Regions from separate parts of the Homo sapiens genome. Here all the other regions are linked to region 1. The links come from fine-mapping of genetic effects on gene expression. A gene starts in region 1. Each other region holds a variant in brackets. All regions are shown on one strand. Distances are between the middles of the regions.

What was found. PIP is the estimated chance that this variant, and not a neighbour inherited with it, causes the effect.
Region 2: its variant is the best candidate, but not a certain one, in a credible set for the expression of TENM3-AS1 in fibroblasts (GTEx, PIP 0.89).
Region 3: its variant is the best candidate, but not a certain one, in a credible set for the expression of TENM3-AS1 in fibroblasts (GTEx, PIP 0.89).

Annotation. Positions count from the first base shown.
Region 1 is chr4:182,141,474-182,146,702 of GRCh38, forward strand. It overlaps TENM3-AS1 (TENM3 antisense RNA 1), which reads right to left and starts at 3,042. Exons shown (of 5, transcript NR_125905.1): 1 at 2,866-3,042; 2 at 2,574-2,667; 3 at 2,230-2,371; 4 at 1,965-2,072; 5 at 1-11. It also overlaps a transcript of TENM3 not described here. RefSeq lists enhancers at 1-344, 3,299-4,287.
Region 2 is chr4:182,161,543-182,166,771 of GRCh38, forward strand. It overlaps a transcript of TENM3 not described here. Among named protein-coding and RNA genes, the nearest start is that of MIR1305, 5.1 kb to the right of the region's middle. The variant C/G (reference allele first, on the strand shown) is at 2,997.
Region 3 is chr4:181,635,030-181,640,258 of GRCh38, forward strand. It overlaps a transcript of TENM3 not described here. Among named protein-coding and RNA genes, the nearest start is that of TENM3-AS2, 190 kb to the right of the region's middle. The variant A/G (reference allele first, on the strand shown) is at 2,575.

The DNA of each region.
Region 1 (5,229 bases):
TGATGGAACTTCTTTGTGTGAGAGACAGAGAGAGACCCAAATTTAACACACGTAAGCTGCCTGGATTACAGGCGCAGGCAGACGTAGAGGAGGACCCCTGCGCGCTTTGTCCACCAGCGACGCCTGGCATAGAGTGCGCAGGGCCGTATTAATGAGTTCTAGAGTATTTTTTTCTATTTTGCAACCATAGTGTGAACGTTCAGCATTGCATACTGAAAAACTTTGAATCTCATGTAAGAAGGAACTGGGCTAGAGACAGGAGCCAAGATTTATTACCATTTCTAAGTTTTATGAGTTCTATTGTTTTCCTACCTTTATTACCAGCGTTAGCTGTAATGAGGATTCTAGAAAAAAGAGCTGGAAAAAAGAAGCATCCCCTAACTCACACAATGTAGCACTTCAGTTCTGGCCTCTTTAGGATTGGGGCAGTGTCTCATCTCTTTATTGTGTATTCGTAGACAGTAAGAGGGAGTCTCACTTACTACTTGGAAAAGTTTTAAAGACCTAATACTTTTGTGTGTGTGTGGGAACTAGGCCACAAAAGTGCTTTATGAAAGAGTTTCCTTACGATCATGTCCGGATTCAAATTTCAAGTAGTTTGCATGATCTTCATGTAATATCTGGGACACACCTTCATAATTGACAAGCCTTTTTTTTATATAATAATAAGAATGGCTAAATGAGTGAGGGATATCATTCATCCGCCCCCATGACCTTATCTTTTTCAAGTGTGAAATTCAGTGGCAGAAGGAGATGGATCTATCCCAGGGCGACTCTAGATTCTTCCCGCAAAGATATGCGTGCTGCTTTCCGTCACTAGCGCCCCGAGAGCCGGGTCGGGTTCGCTTACTACCAAGACTTCTCTACTTAACGCGCTGCGCTCGGGCACTTAGCAACTTCGGGAACACGGGCTGTGGGTCTGGGCACACCACCTCGAGTTTAGGGATTCTCCTCACTTCTAGCCCAAACTTTGGATAAACTAACATAAAGGTTCAGGCTTTCCTAGGAGGCGTCGTCCTTGTTCTCCCAGTGCTCGATCTGTTTCTGGTTCTGCACGGTAGTTAAAAATGCAAGTGGATTTCCTAACGGCCGAGTACAGGTACAGGTGGAGGTCGGCGGAATCCTCTGCTCTGAAGCTGAAAGTGGAGGGTGGCGCGAGGCGGCTGGCGCGACGAGGCTGAGAGCGCACCAGTCTCCGCCACGCTTCCAAGGACAGGTTGGCGACGGCCGGGGCAGGCCTGGTCGCGGGCTCCTAGCCCTCCACGGGCAGACTGCTGGTCCCAGGAGAGGGCGGGGAGATGCTCGGGCGCGCACCAGGGAGCCGCACTCACTCGGCAGCCCCAAGCACGCACGCCCCACCTCTGCCGCCGCCCCGTCCCGGACCCGAAAGGAGCCTGAAGGATCCCGCCGACCACCCAGCCAGAGAGCGGTTCGGCTCAGGTCGCCCATTCGGAGCTACAAAACTCTGGAACCTCCAGCAGTTTCGGAAGCTCCGGGGGAGGGCTTTCCTGCAGACAGGGGGCGGGAGCTAGGGAGCCGGGAGCCAGCGCTGCGGTGGGAACTTCAGTGAGTAGAAAGTGGCCAGTGTCTTGGGAGGAGCAGCAAACTTTTTTTTTCCCTCCCACAGCAAACAAAATCGAGGCAGGGACAGTGTCCGGCCGCTAATCTGAGGGGAGAATGGAGAGGAAAGAAGAGTAGTAAAAGTGGGGAGTGGAGCCTTCGGAGGACTCCCGGGTCCGCCCCTGGCCAGGTGATGCGGGGCGGAGGCCTAGGTGCTTGAACCTGGGGGGCAGACAATTGTTCTGCTGCAGTGCCCACCAGGGGCTGGTAAGGAAGTCTGAGTGTTTACTGCCTCCCTTCCCTGTCCAAAGGTCATTTGCGCTTTTCGGTCTCGGACGAAAGAACACTGTGGAAAGGAAGGCGCGGGTCATTTTCAGAGGCTCTGCAAAGGACGGGCCGCCTACCGGGGGTGGAAATCCTTAATTACACCCTTCTGCCTCGGAATCCGTCTTCCCGGCAGTGTCTTGCACTGCCACCTCCTCGGGTGACTCAGCTGACCTGAAATGCCCACCCTACGGAAGATCAAGAAAAGTAGTTTTCTAAGAAGGTTAGAGGTTTGATTACACAGAGAAGTGTTTCCACTTAAGTCCAAAGCAATTACCCGCCCCCTCCCCCAGGGCCGCCTCCCCGCCACCCGCAGCAGAAAAGGACAGACCCCCACGCACGTACCCCCATTTTGTTGGTGCGTGTGAATTTCAAATGGCGCAGTAAGTTCATTAGTGTTTTCAATCGGCGGCGGGCAGACCCCTCATCAGAGCCGAAAGCCGGCAAGAGCCATTCATCAGCGTGAAGTGTTATTCACGGATGACCCCTAAATCACGGCGAGAGTAGTAAAGGCACTGATTGGTCACAGCATGGGAGCCTCGGTGCTTTCCCGAACCCGACGCGGCCGGGAGGAGGGAAGGAGGGAGGGGCGGCGAACGTGGTTCAGTCCGGCAAATCCCATTTGACAGAAAAAGGCAGTAAACGGGGAATCTCTTTTTTTGAATAAAGAAGAAGAAGAAATAAAGTACCTGTCATCTTGACAAGTGGCGGAGCGGAGGAGTCAAGGATTATAAATGATCACAGCCAGGTCCAGCTCGCCCCGTGATTGGGCTCTCCCGCGATCTGCACCGGGGGAAGCGCATGGTAGGCTCCTCTCCTCTCCTCCTCTCCCTCGCACACTCCCGCACACACACACACACACACACACACGGACACGTGTACGCGCCCGGGCTCGGGCACACTCGGCCCGGCGCGTCCCCCGCCGCACAATTACGGTCCTGGATGCCGCTCCCTGGCCGGGCGTCCCGCGGGCCTCCTCACCTGGCCCTTCTCGCCTTCCTCCTCCCTCGCCTCCCCGGTCCTCCCGCTCGCGGGCTGAACCCCGAAAACTCCGGCCCGGCCTGGTCCGCCGCCTTGGAGGAGGCTGGAGGGGCCGGCGGGCGGGGAGAGGGGGAGCGCGGGGGAGAGAAAGAAAGTGAACTCATTGGCGCGCGGGCGCCCTCCCCTCCCGCGTCCCCGGGCCGCGCGGCCGGGGGCGGGCAGGGAAGGAAGTTGTAACACTCGCGCCCCCTCCCCGCCCCCGCCCCGCCGGCGCCCGCTCCCCGCTCCCTCGGCGGGGCCCCCCTCCCCCGCGCCCGGCTCCTTTGAATTTGGCCCGGCGCGGTGTGCGCGCGGCTCGGGCGGACGCGGCGGCTGCTGCCGGGGAGCGAGCCGGCGGCGCGGGCGAGCCGAGCGCGGTAAGTGCGGCGCCGCCGCCGGCGCGCCCTCCTTCCTTTATGGGGTCCTAGTGCCGGGCCGCGGCGCCGGGAGCTGGCGGGCGCGAGCTGGGACGGCGCGTGGCCCCGGGAGGCGGCGGACGCGGGGACATCTTCTCAGCGCGCGGATTCTCTCCACGGTCCGGCCTCCCCGTCCCCGCCCCGCCCTCGCGCCAGCCACCTCCGGCCGCCGGCTCAGGTGGGAACTTCGCCGGCGCCTCTCGCCCGGGGAGCCAGGCGCCGCGCCCCCGTACTGGGGAGCCCCGGGGTCCCTGAGGAAGGCAGTCCGGAGGCTGGGCGCCCAGTGGGGGCGGGGAGGGGAGCCCGCCAGGTCCTCTTCGGCCCCCGATGTGTGGCGAGGCCCCGCGTCTTCTGCGGGGGCGTCTTAACAGGATCCTGGGGGGCTTCCAGCGAGCGGAAAGCCCCGGGATGTCACCGCTTTCCGGGGCAGGCAGGGGACAGAAGGCTTCTGCAGCGATCAGGGAGCCAAGTTGAAAAGGAGTGAAGGAGGGAGAGTGCGGGGCGAGGGGTAGCGTGGGGAGTGGTGGATCACGGCTGAAACTTGATCGGGAAACTCTGGATGGGGTTGGAAACACACACAAAATATCCTGAGCTGGGCGTTTCAAAAATTACGAATTTATGAGCCTGCAACTGAGATTCTAAGTCCCTCTCGTGTTTTACAACCGATTACAAAGAGCTTCACGTATTTTAGGTTGAGGCGGGTTGTGTCTGATTGATCTTTGCTGAGCATCTTACTATGCAGCTTGGATTCCATTCTTACTGCCTCACCTTTAAGGTAGCTGGAGTGGTAACTTGTTAATTTTTATTGTAGAGAGAGGGTAACAAGTACTTGTACCGTGTAATACATCACACACGTGTGTTTCCCCAAGTCACTGTAATTTGGAGGTAGAGAAAAGTTTCCAGGTACGTGTGAGGAGGTGCAATGGAAATGAAAGGCTGAGAGCTGTCCTAGACTTTTTACAGGGCCCCAGACGGCTGGGATGCCCGAGAACAGGACTGTCTCTTCATCATGCTCTATTTCTTATCTTCTGACAATGTATTTTGTCAAACATTGGTAGACTCTGGCAGAATCCACTGGGTGGTCTTTTCACTAGAAATAGACATATGTTGAGGCATTACCTTTCCCTTCTCTTGTCAAAAGAAAAAAGGTGGATATGGCATCTCTGGAAAGCTTGGAAGAGTATCCCAAAAGATGGTATTGTAACTGAACAGAACTTGGTGATTTGATCCCTTAGTGAATTTCTTTAAAATAATGACGCATATCCCTTTTTCCCCACTGCCTACTTGGAGAAGTATTTGTAGTCTTTATGTATTAATATATTGAGAACAGACTGACTTTAGAATTAAGAGCAACTGTGTAATAATAATTATCTATTTTAATATTTCAATTAAAACAAGATTTTATAAATTCAACAATCTTGCTTTGTGCATTCCTTAATACACTTTTAATTATCTAAAACTTCGAGCATGTATATCTTAATATATAAAATTCTTGTATGAGCCCTGAAAGTTTGGATTTGTAATTCTAAATGCAGAGTAAATATTTAATTCTTGATCTAAGAGTGAGAGGTTAGTTCAGTAATAAGACTTGCTAATCCCACTTTAAAATGTCATGGCATTCACAAATTATTCCTAAATTCTTCAAAGATAGGAGTTTATAATGAGTTTAGTTATTCTATTGTGTATTTCAGGATTGTCTGTATCTCTTCCTGTTGCATTTCCCTTAACAATCTTGTTCTTTTTTTCTTACACGAATTTTATTATTCCTCTTAATCAAAGATTTTTTTCTAATAGTAAACAAATATATCTTATGTTAAATAACTTAGAAAAGAATAGTTAGAAAAAGTAGTTCAAATCAAACACACATTTTACATGCACTGCACAGTTTTTATAAAAAATGTAGTTGTAC
Region 2 (5,229 bases), 20 kb after region 1:
CGCCACTGCACTCCAGCCTGGGCAACAGAGTTGAGGCTCAGTCCAAATATATATATACATATATATATATGTATATATATATACAAATATATATATGTATATATATATATACACACACACAAATATATATATGTATATATATACACAAATATATATGTATATATATACATATATATGTGTATATATATATACACAAATATATGTGTATATATATACATATATATGTGTATATATATATACACAAATATATGTATATATATACACATATATATGTATATATATACACATATATATGTGTATATATACACAAATATATATGTGTATATATGTGTATATATATACACACATATATGTGTATATATACACACACATGTATGTGTATATATATACACATATATATATTTGTGTGTGTGTGTGTATATATATATATATATATATATATATATATATATATGATGCAAACATACATCCACTAATGTATTAGTCGGTTCAATGGATTTCTTTCTTTTTTAAAACAAACAAACAAAATCAATGTCTTGCTATGTTGTGCAGGCTGTCCTCAAACTCATGGGCTCAAGCAGTCCTCCTGCCTCAGTCTCTTGAGTTGCTGGGATTACAGGCAAGCTACCACACCTGGCGAATTTCTTAATATTTTGCTGAAAGCAAATTTTAAACATTTGTCTTTGAAATGTTAGTTGGCTCCAGTGAAAATAAGTCCTTTTTGTTTTTCAGCTCTAATGTGTTCAGTTATCATTTATTAAACACCTATTTTGAGCCCAACATTGGCTTAGGCTCTGTGAAGAAAGGGGTACAAAAATAGAAGAAGACATCTATTTTAGAAGCTCCAAAGAAATGTGTAATAATTAGACAAACTAACACTGTGAGCTAGGATTAAGTCTGAAGATGTGGAATACAAACTGTGCACTCGGAACTCAAGGAAGAGAGAGGAATGTATAGGGTGGGGTTTGTTCCAGTGCCATCTCAACCTCATCATTTCCAAGTTGGTATTCTGAACACTCTCTTAGCCTGTTCATGCTGCTGTAACAAGACACCTGAGACTAGACAGTTTATAGACAATAGAAATTTATTTTTCAGTTTGGAGGCTGGGAAGTCCAAGATCAAGGTGCTGGCAGACTCAGTGTTCCAGCACCTTGCTCTGCTTCTGAGATGTTGCCTCAAATACTGCATCCTCCAGAGGAGACAAGCTCTGTGTCCTCATGTTGCACAAAGGATGGAAGTGCAAAAAGGGCTTAGCTAGTCCCTCCTGCTCTTTTATGACACTAATTCCATCCATGAGAGCAGAGCCTTCGCGGCCTAATTCCCGTCGAAAGGCCCCTCTTCATACTGTTGCACTGGAGATTAACTTTCAATATGAACTTCGGAGGGACACAAATAATCAAAGCATAGCAGTCACTCTTCTCTCAGGCCTGAGGAGCAAAGCTGCCCCTTCTCCTGTATTTGTACATTATCCCATTATCCTGTTTGTTCACACATGCTGGAAGCTTAAGAGCCATCTTCAAGACGGCTCCATCCCTCACTACCTGTACTAATCAGTCATTACGTCCTGCTCATTCTTATTTCAGAGTTTCTGGTCCTTGCCCCTCCTTTCCATCCTCACTGGCAGTTTCCTCTCTAGGGCTCTCATCCCTCATCTTAATTGCACAGAATGTCTTCTAACTGGGCCTCCTGCCACCCGTCTTTCGTCTCTCCAATCCATTTTTCTAGATTGCCCCTGGAGAGTTTGCCTCCTAAAATCCTGAACCGATCTTGTCACGAAGAAGCCCAAACTCAGCATGGAAGCCGAGATCCATACCTCCTGATCTGGCCAGGCCCCTTCCAGCCCCGCCTCCCATCTCTTAGGTACAGTGTGCCTCACACAAGGGGATTTAGTTAGCATTTCCAAGCACGAGGCGAGTCTTCCCACTTTCTGTGTCAGGTTAAACATTCTCTGTGAAATTGTCCTTGATTTGCTCAGTAGAATTAGGTACTCATCTCCCTCTCTCTTTCTGCCCCCATGCTGCTATAGTGTTTCTACATCTATTTAGCATTTACCTCATGCTGCACTTTTAGTTTATTAGAATTCAAGGGTTCTAGGAGTAGGAAGGAATTTAGAGATCATACAGGCAGAGCCTCTTATTGTAAATGTGGCACAACTGAGGATAAACGTGTAGCCCTCCCAGAGTCTACTTTTCAGTTGTCCTTGAGTTTGATCTCAGCATCATTGCCCAAGAAGAGCTTGATTTCCTTTGCTCTGTGACATCTCAGCAACTGCCTCTCTACTTTCTTGGTATCTGTCCTCTTCTAGTTGGTCTGCAAATACTAGGGTTCCTCAGAAACAAGCCCTTAGACCCTCTGCCTTCACACTGTATCCACTGTCCCAGCTCTTGCAATGTCATAGATTCCCATGGCTTCAGTGTTCACTCATAAACAGGCAGTTCACAAATATTCCACTCAAAACTTCTAGCTCCAGATATGAGTATCCAGGGGGACCTTCTAACCTATCATCCAAACAGGGACCCTGTGAGAGTGACAGTGAGCACCAAATCACCAAATGACAGGATGCCAGGACAACTAGCATTAACTGGAGCATCCAGAGCCAGCAGGCACCTTCGGTCATCCTGGTATACTGAACCATTTCACGTATGCTCTTGCATGTCTCAGGCTCCCAAAACTAACATGGATCTGAATCCATAATCTTTTCCTGCAAACCTCATCTTTCCTGGGTGGCCCACATTCAGTACAGGAAAGGAACTGTCCATCAAGTTACCAAGCCAGCAACCTTGAACTGGTCCTTGGTCCTTTCTTCACCTCAATCCCACTCATCACATTGTCTAGTTAATATTGCTTTCTAAGTATCTCAAAATCATCATGCTTCCATTTGTCTTCCACCCCTGCCATTCTAGTCCAAGCTCCCTTGGCATCTGGACTGGATTTGCACGGTGACTTCCATGTTGACTTAATTGACATTCTGTGGAGCTCCTCCTCCAACTCATTCT[C/G]CACACCTCAAATTGATCTTTTAAGAACGCAAAGAGGATCCTGTCATCCCTTGCTTAAAACAGTGCATAAAACATAATACATAATGGAAGACATGATATGTGTCTTTCTTTTCCACTTGATTGTCATGCCCCTAAAACCAGGGACCTTGTTTGTTTTGCTCCCTTTTGTTTAACTGGTTGCGTGACATAGCACCTCATACATAGTCCTGGATGAATATTTATTGGTTGAATGAGCAAATGAAAAAAAGTCCCAGGGTTCTAAAAACCTACTTCAGACCGCTAGTTCCAGAGTCTCTGGGTTCTTTTTTCCCTCAAGGATTTTAACCTCCTTGAAGGTAGAAGTTCTGCTGTTCTATCATTGAATATTTCATTCTTTCCCATTTTGGAAATGAGATACTCCTCTCTACTCTTTGTGTCTTCAGTACTTTTAACCATAGCTACATCTTAGAATCACCAGGGAGCTTGCAGAGAACACTAATGCCAGGATTTTGCCCCAAACTAATTAATTCAGAATCTCTAGACATAGGAAATAAGTTTTAAAAGCCTCCCTAGTGTTTGTAAGGCACAGTCAGGGTTGAGAAGCCACTGGTTTAAATCTGGTCATCCTTCAAGTCCCTTCTCAGGCATCATCTACTCCAGGGAAACTCAGATCCCTCATTTCTCCTCAGGACTTACTAGTAGGTAGTGAAGTGATTCTATGATCAATACTTATTTCATTATTTTCGGAGTTCCATTCCAGCTATGTTGTAAGGATGCATTAGGGCTGAGATTATGCATTATATTTAGGAATTTGCTGAGGACCAAAAAGTTACTTTATAATTTCCTTTTATTTGACCCATGTTCACTTCTCACTTTGGAAAGACTTCAGGTTGATAAGCAAGCTGACTTCTGATTTGTGGCTGCCTCTATGGTTTAACATCCTAGCAAATTTTTCTTACACGTTCCGTCGTGTTCCTGAGCTGCTAGAGAGCTATCTGAGTCAGCGGTTAACTGAGGCTTAGGCACACATAGTCATCAGCTGGGAGGAACAGGCTAAACAGATATCTCCTTGCACTACTTAGAAAACCAACTTTCCATCAGGAACTCTGGGACTTTTAGAAAATATGTATACAGCTTCCATGGGTCCCTTAAGTTATTCTGTTATTGCAGCATGCAGCACATTGGGTGGAAACCTAAAATGCACACTGAGTGACTCCCCTTTCACTCTTTTTTGGGGGGTGAAGCAGGGCAGGTGTAAAAGCAGTTTTTTGTTTTTTTGAGAGAGTCTCGCTCTGTCATCCAGGCTGGAGTGCAGTGGCGTGCTCTCGGCTCACTACAACCTCCATCTCCCAGGTTCAAGCGATTCTCCTGCCTCAGCTTCTCGACGAGTAGCTGGGATTACAGGCGTGTGCCACCACGCCAGTCTAATTTTTTGTCTTTTTAGTAGAGACGGGGTTTCACCGCATTAGCCAGGATGGTCTCGATCTCCTGACCTCATGATCTGCCCGCCTCGGCCTCCCAAAGTGCTGGGATTACAGGCGTGAGCCACCGCACCCGGCCTGTAAAAGCAGTTTTTTAAAATGTGCGTTTATGTATGTTGACCCAGGTTACTCCGTTGTCCCGTTGGTAAAGACTACCAAATTTAATGTGGCTGTTTCGTAAAGATACCTTCTCAGAGACATCGTCAAAGAGCATGCTTTAAAACTCTGTTCAGGCACATTTGCAGCTTTCCATAGGAAACTATAAAGGCAGATAATGTCATAGCACCTTTTTCTAAAGCCATTCTTAGGGACTTCAGCATTGACGATATGATTGAGGGAAGAGCAGGGAGGAAAACAGTGTGTCTGGAGGGCCCCCTGGGCTTCTGCCATGAGATTGAAGCTTGGCACCTCAGTCATGGCCATTCTGCACAGGTAAATCTTAAAATTTCATCTTGAATTTTTCATGGCATCATCAACTGGTGTAGATTTGGGTATCATTTTGCAGCTGCCAAGCGGATCTTTGTGTCAGTTCACCCCAAACTACATCACATTTAGCAAAATTGCCCATAGTATGCAGGTAATATTTTGAGTAGTTTTATGATAGATTTTGACATTTATTTCTTTTCTTCTCTTTTCTTTTCTTTTTCTTTTGTGACAGAGTCTTGCTCTGTTGCCCAGGCTAGAGTGCAGTGGTGCGATCTGAGCTCACTGCAACCTCTGCCTCCCAGGTTAAAGCGATGCTCCTGCCTCAGCCTCCCGAGTAGCTGGAATTA
Region 3 (5,229 bases), 510 kb before region 1:
TGTGAGACCTATCTCTGAAAACATGAGGTTGTTTATTTCTTATTTGTCCCCTTGAGATTTACAGGAGTAAGTCACATTAATTCTAATGGGATTTAGCCGTCAAAATTTTCTCTGCATCAGCAGCAGAAGGGAGGCATGCGGGCATAGCAAACGAGAAAGTTGAAAAATGAATTTTCGTGACCTAAATTTTTTATTGTAATTATTACATAATTAATATTGCACCTTAATACTAGTTCACCTCATTATAGGTATAAATACCTGGTATGCATTTACTCTGCAGTGAAAATAAACACTGATGTGCTAATCATAGCTAAACATGGGATTGAAAGACTAATCAATCTTCATGAGGGACATCAGTAGTCAGTTTCCATCGAATGATCAAGTTGATGAAAAGAGGATATCCCAATACATGCTAATTTGACATGGAAAAAGGGATTCGCTGCAGTTCAGCTGAGATGGCTGCAGGTGAACAAGGGTCTTACCTAAGTGGGGAGTGTGGGTTCCACCATGCTGATCCCCAGGAAACCTGTCAGAGGATCTCTTCCATAAGACAGTGGTTGTCAAGCTGGGCTCAGAGAGCCACCAAGCTACCTTGGGAACTTCTATGGGCTGAGAGGGTGGAGTGGAGAGGAACAGATAGGACAGAGGCCTACCACTTCCGCTTTCAACCTAGGGTGATGCTTCTCCTTTTACATGTTTACATATTAGCTTTCTTTGTAGGATTTCCTGGGAAGAAAGGGTGCAAGAGCTTTAAAAAAATTGTTGCAGAGCACAGTAATAGCATAGGCTTCTGGAGGGAGACGGGGCTTCCTCACATAGATCAAATCAAGAGAGGAGGCCACAGTCAGGAATTGAACAGACATGGCCATTCTTGTGGCAACTGGGGGGAAATTACATCGTGGGCTCCCTCTTCCCTGCTAACATATAGATACACATATGCCATATATAAATATACATAAACATACATGTATATATATGTACACACATGTGGAAGGAAAGAGAGAGAAACTTCAGTTTTTGTTTTTTGGTTTTTTTTGAGACAGTTTCGCTCTGTCATTCAGGCTGGAGTGCAATGATGTGATCTCAGCTCACTACAACCTCCACATCCCAGATTCAGGCGATTCTCCTATCTCAGCCTCCCGAGTAGCTGGGACTACAGGTGCGTGCCACCACATCCGGCTAATTTTGTATTTTTAGTAGAGACAGGGTTTCACCATATTGGCCAGGATGGTCTTGATCTCTTGAACTCGTGATCCACCCGCCTCGGCCTCCCAAAGTGTTGGGATTACAGGTGTGAGCCACCGCCCATGGCCATTTCTTGCTCTTCAGGCCTTCAGCTGATTGGAAGAAGCCCACCCACATTAGAGAGGGTAATAATCTGCTTTATTTAAAATCAAATGATTGCACATGTTAGTCACATCCACAAAATACCTTCATAACAACCTCTAGACTAGTGTTTGGCCAAATAACAGACACCACATTCTAGCTGATCTTTGACACACAAAGCAAACCATCACTGTGTCATGACAGGTTCCTCTCTTCCTCTCACGTGCCCAGCCAATCCATCAGCAGTTACTCTTGGCGCTACCTTCTTGATGTACCCACACTCCACCCACTTCTCCCCACCTCTGCTGCAGCGCCTCAGTGCAAGCGCCCATCGTGTCTTACTGGATTATTGGAATAGCATCTTAACAGTTCTTCTTTTCTCTGCTTTTCCCTCTTCGGTTTATCCTCAACGCAGCGACCAAAGTAATCCTGTTAGCTAAACGGATCATGTCACTGCTCTTCTGTTTAGAGCCCCTGATGGCTTCCCGTCACCCTTCGATTAAAAACCAAAGTACTTACAGTGCTATCATGCCCTGCATCCTTTACACTTCCCCATGACCTCTCTGACCTCAGCCCCTACCCCTCTGGTTTACACCACTCCAGCCATTTCGCTTCGCTTGATGTTCCCGAGAAACTTCCACTTACACACACTGCACATTCGGTTTCCTCTTTCTAAAAAGGCTTTCCCGCTAGATACCCATATGCCTTGCTCTCTGCCGCCTTCAGGTCTCCAAGTGAAGGCCACCTTCCCATGAAGACCTTCTCTGACCACACTACAAGATTGCGAAGCCCCTTCTTCCTCAGCAACTCCTATCCTTTTTTCCTCTGCAAAATTAGTTATAATTATTCTATAGTTTCTATAACAACAACAAAAAAAACTTCAGTGTCTTATCAAAATAGAAATGTATTTCTTATTTATGTGAGTGTTCCTGATTCACGAGCAACTTTCCTCCATGTGGTGACTAAGAAACAAAACACGTCTTTTGGCTCCCCCAGCAACTCCGGGCTGTGGAGTCCAGTGTGTTCAGCACATGGGTGGGGAATGAGTAGGTGGAAATTTATACCCACTCCTTAAGCCAGAAAATGACACACGTCACTTCTATGCACATGACAGTGGCAAAACTCGTCAAATGTTCCTATCCAGACGTGAAGGAGACCTGGAAATATAGTCCCTGGAGGAGCCCGTGTTTTTCCAGTAACATCTTCACACTGTGGGAGGAAAAGCCAAAACTTTGGTGGAACACTGAC[A/G]AGGCTCCACCCTCCTGACCTAATTACCTCCGAAAGGCCCTGCCTCCTCCTACAATCACAGTAGGGGTTAGAATCTCAACATACAAATGTGAGAGGGACACAGACATTGTCTGTAGCAAGCACTTACCAATTGTAACATGTTACATTTGTACTCATTTATTGTTTTGTTGTTGTCCGTCACTCCCACTAAAATCTATGGCCCGTGAGACATGCATTTTTGTTCATTTCAGTCATTGGTACATTCTCAGAGCCTAGAACAGAAATAAATAATTTCTGAGTGAACAAATGAGTAAATGGGTAGATGGATGAGTTGCTGGATGGGTGCATAGGAATGACAGGGTATATCCTGCCCAGCTGTAGTTCATCAGTAGAAGGGGTTTGGACCACACGCAGGCATTTTCTTGGCAAAGAGGAAGGGGAAAAGTAAGATGTGAGACCGTCTACAGGACACACTTGCCCTTGGTGACTTTATCCTATTCCCTTTACCTAGTAATTGAGTTTTATTACTATGTAACTTTTAAAAATTGGTTTATTCAAAATCAAGACATGGTTATCATTCTACTTAAACTGGTTGTTGGTAATAGAACCTACTTATCCCACACAGACTGACATAGTGCCTAATTGAGAGACACACAGAAAATGTTGGCCAAATAAGTAATTAAATCACGAATAAGTGGGCATCAGATTAGGTTTCCTCCAGCGTAAGCACTGGGACTCATTCATTCAATCTTCAGCAAGTATGTACAGATAAGGCCGTGAAAGTTGTGAAGTTGTGGCTGCATAGAAAAATACTTAATGCCCCCCTGTGTTTGGGGATCACCCAGTATTTCTTTTAAGAAGTATAAAAATTATTAATGTCAACTTTTCCATGTTCCTGCTCTCACCAACATAGAATGTTCCATCTGCAGAACAAATCCAAGTCAGAGGTTGAAATCCTGAAGTCCAAAGATCATTAGTCTGTCTGAACCTTTTCACTGCTTTAGAACCTTAAAAATTCATTATGAGAGCAGAGAGATTTGCTCTTTTTGCTACTGTACTCCATTTTCTCTGTAGTAAAAATGGAAACTTTATTGGAAAACATAATACATCAATTGTAATGATCATCATAGTTTGAGATGGTGGGTTTTTTTAAAATGTTACTTTCCTTAATAATCACTATGTATAAAAACTGCAAATATATATATTCCAGAGTTCCTTTAAATCAGCAGAGATGCACCTGCATATTTTGGTCTCATATATGAAAAAGGGCAATTAGCTTCTAAATTAACACATCCGTGTATTAATAACTGACATTTAGTAGTAGCCCAAAGGTCATATTGAAAGACTGTTCATGCATGAAGCTGCAGAACTTATTCTAATCATGCTGTACCTAATTGATTCACAGATGATCTAACTGGACAAATTGTTAAATAAAAGGGTGGCCTAGAATTCATTTTGTTTTGCATTTTTTTTGACTGTTTGGGAATACTTCAAGTGTATTCCTGTCATCACTTGTCCTTGTTTAGTCCATGAATCTGACATAGCAGAAAGTTCTTCTGGACTCTGCTTGGATATCAAGAGCAAAAAGCTATGGGAAATGATGGACTAAGAAATGAAATGGCACAGCAAAAATGTAACCAGGCATAATAACCCAAATGAAATAGCAAGCATATCATGGCATATTGACTTAAGAGATATTTTATTTATTTGCTGATTATTTCTTTTGTATGAATGCATCAAGCCCCCTGAACCCTAGTTAGTTATACAAATGAGCACCTCATTGTGACCATCCACATGCAGCCAAGGCAGCTCCACTCCCTGCAGCACTATGTCACCATCATCCCATGACAGGGTCCGGTTAATATCCCCACCACTGGCCAGCTGTGGTGGCTCACGCCTGTAATCCCAGCACTTTGGGAGGCCGAGGCGGGTGGATCACCTGAGGTCAGGAGTTTGAGACCAGCCTGGCCAACACAGTGAAACCCCGTCTCTACTAAAAATACAAAAATTGGCCAGGCATGGTGGCAGGCCCCTGTGATCCCAGCTACTTGGGAGGCTGAGGCCGGAGAATCGCTTGAACCCAGGAGGCAGAGGTTGCAGTGGGCCGAGATCACGCCAGTGTACTCCAGCCTGGGGGACAAGAGCAAGACTTATTCTCAAAATAAATAAATAAATCCCCACCACCCTCGGAGTGGTGCTCTTCCCTTAGCTACTGTGACACTACACACTCCTGATTTTGTTCCTACTTCTCGGCCAAGGAGATCCACCCCAACAGATGAACTCCTGCCAGTAAGGCTGAGGGCTGCACAGCCCCTGCGTGTGTGGGCGTATGGGCTGGATAAGGACTGTGCCAAGTGCCGTTTACAATGCCGTGTCGCTTTGCCATTTATTTTGTGATGCAGTGAATACATTTATCTCCATAATAATTGGCAAAAGGTACCCAAGTGTATCAGCCACGTCCTGGTGGTACACAGACAGCACTCACCAAAAGGAGAAGCTGAAGACAGTTGAATGAACAGGTAGGCAGGGACATCAAGAAGATGAAGGGGCTTTAGTGAGTTCTGTGGACCAACAGCAGCATCACCTGGGAAATTGATAGAAATGCCAATTCTCAGTCCCTACTCCAGACCTACTGAGCCTGAGACTCTGGGGATAGAATGCAGTAATCTGTGCATC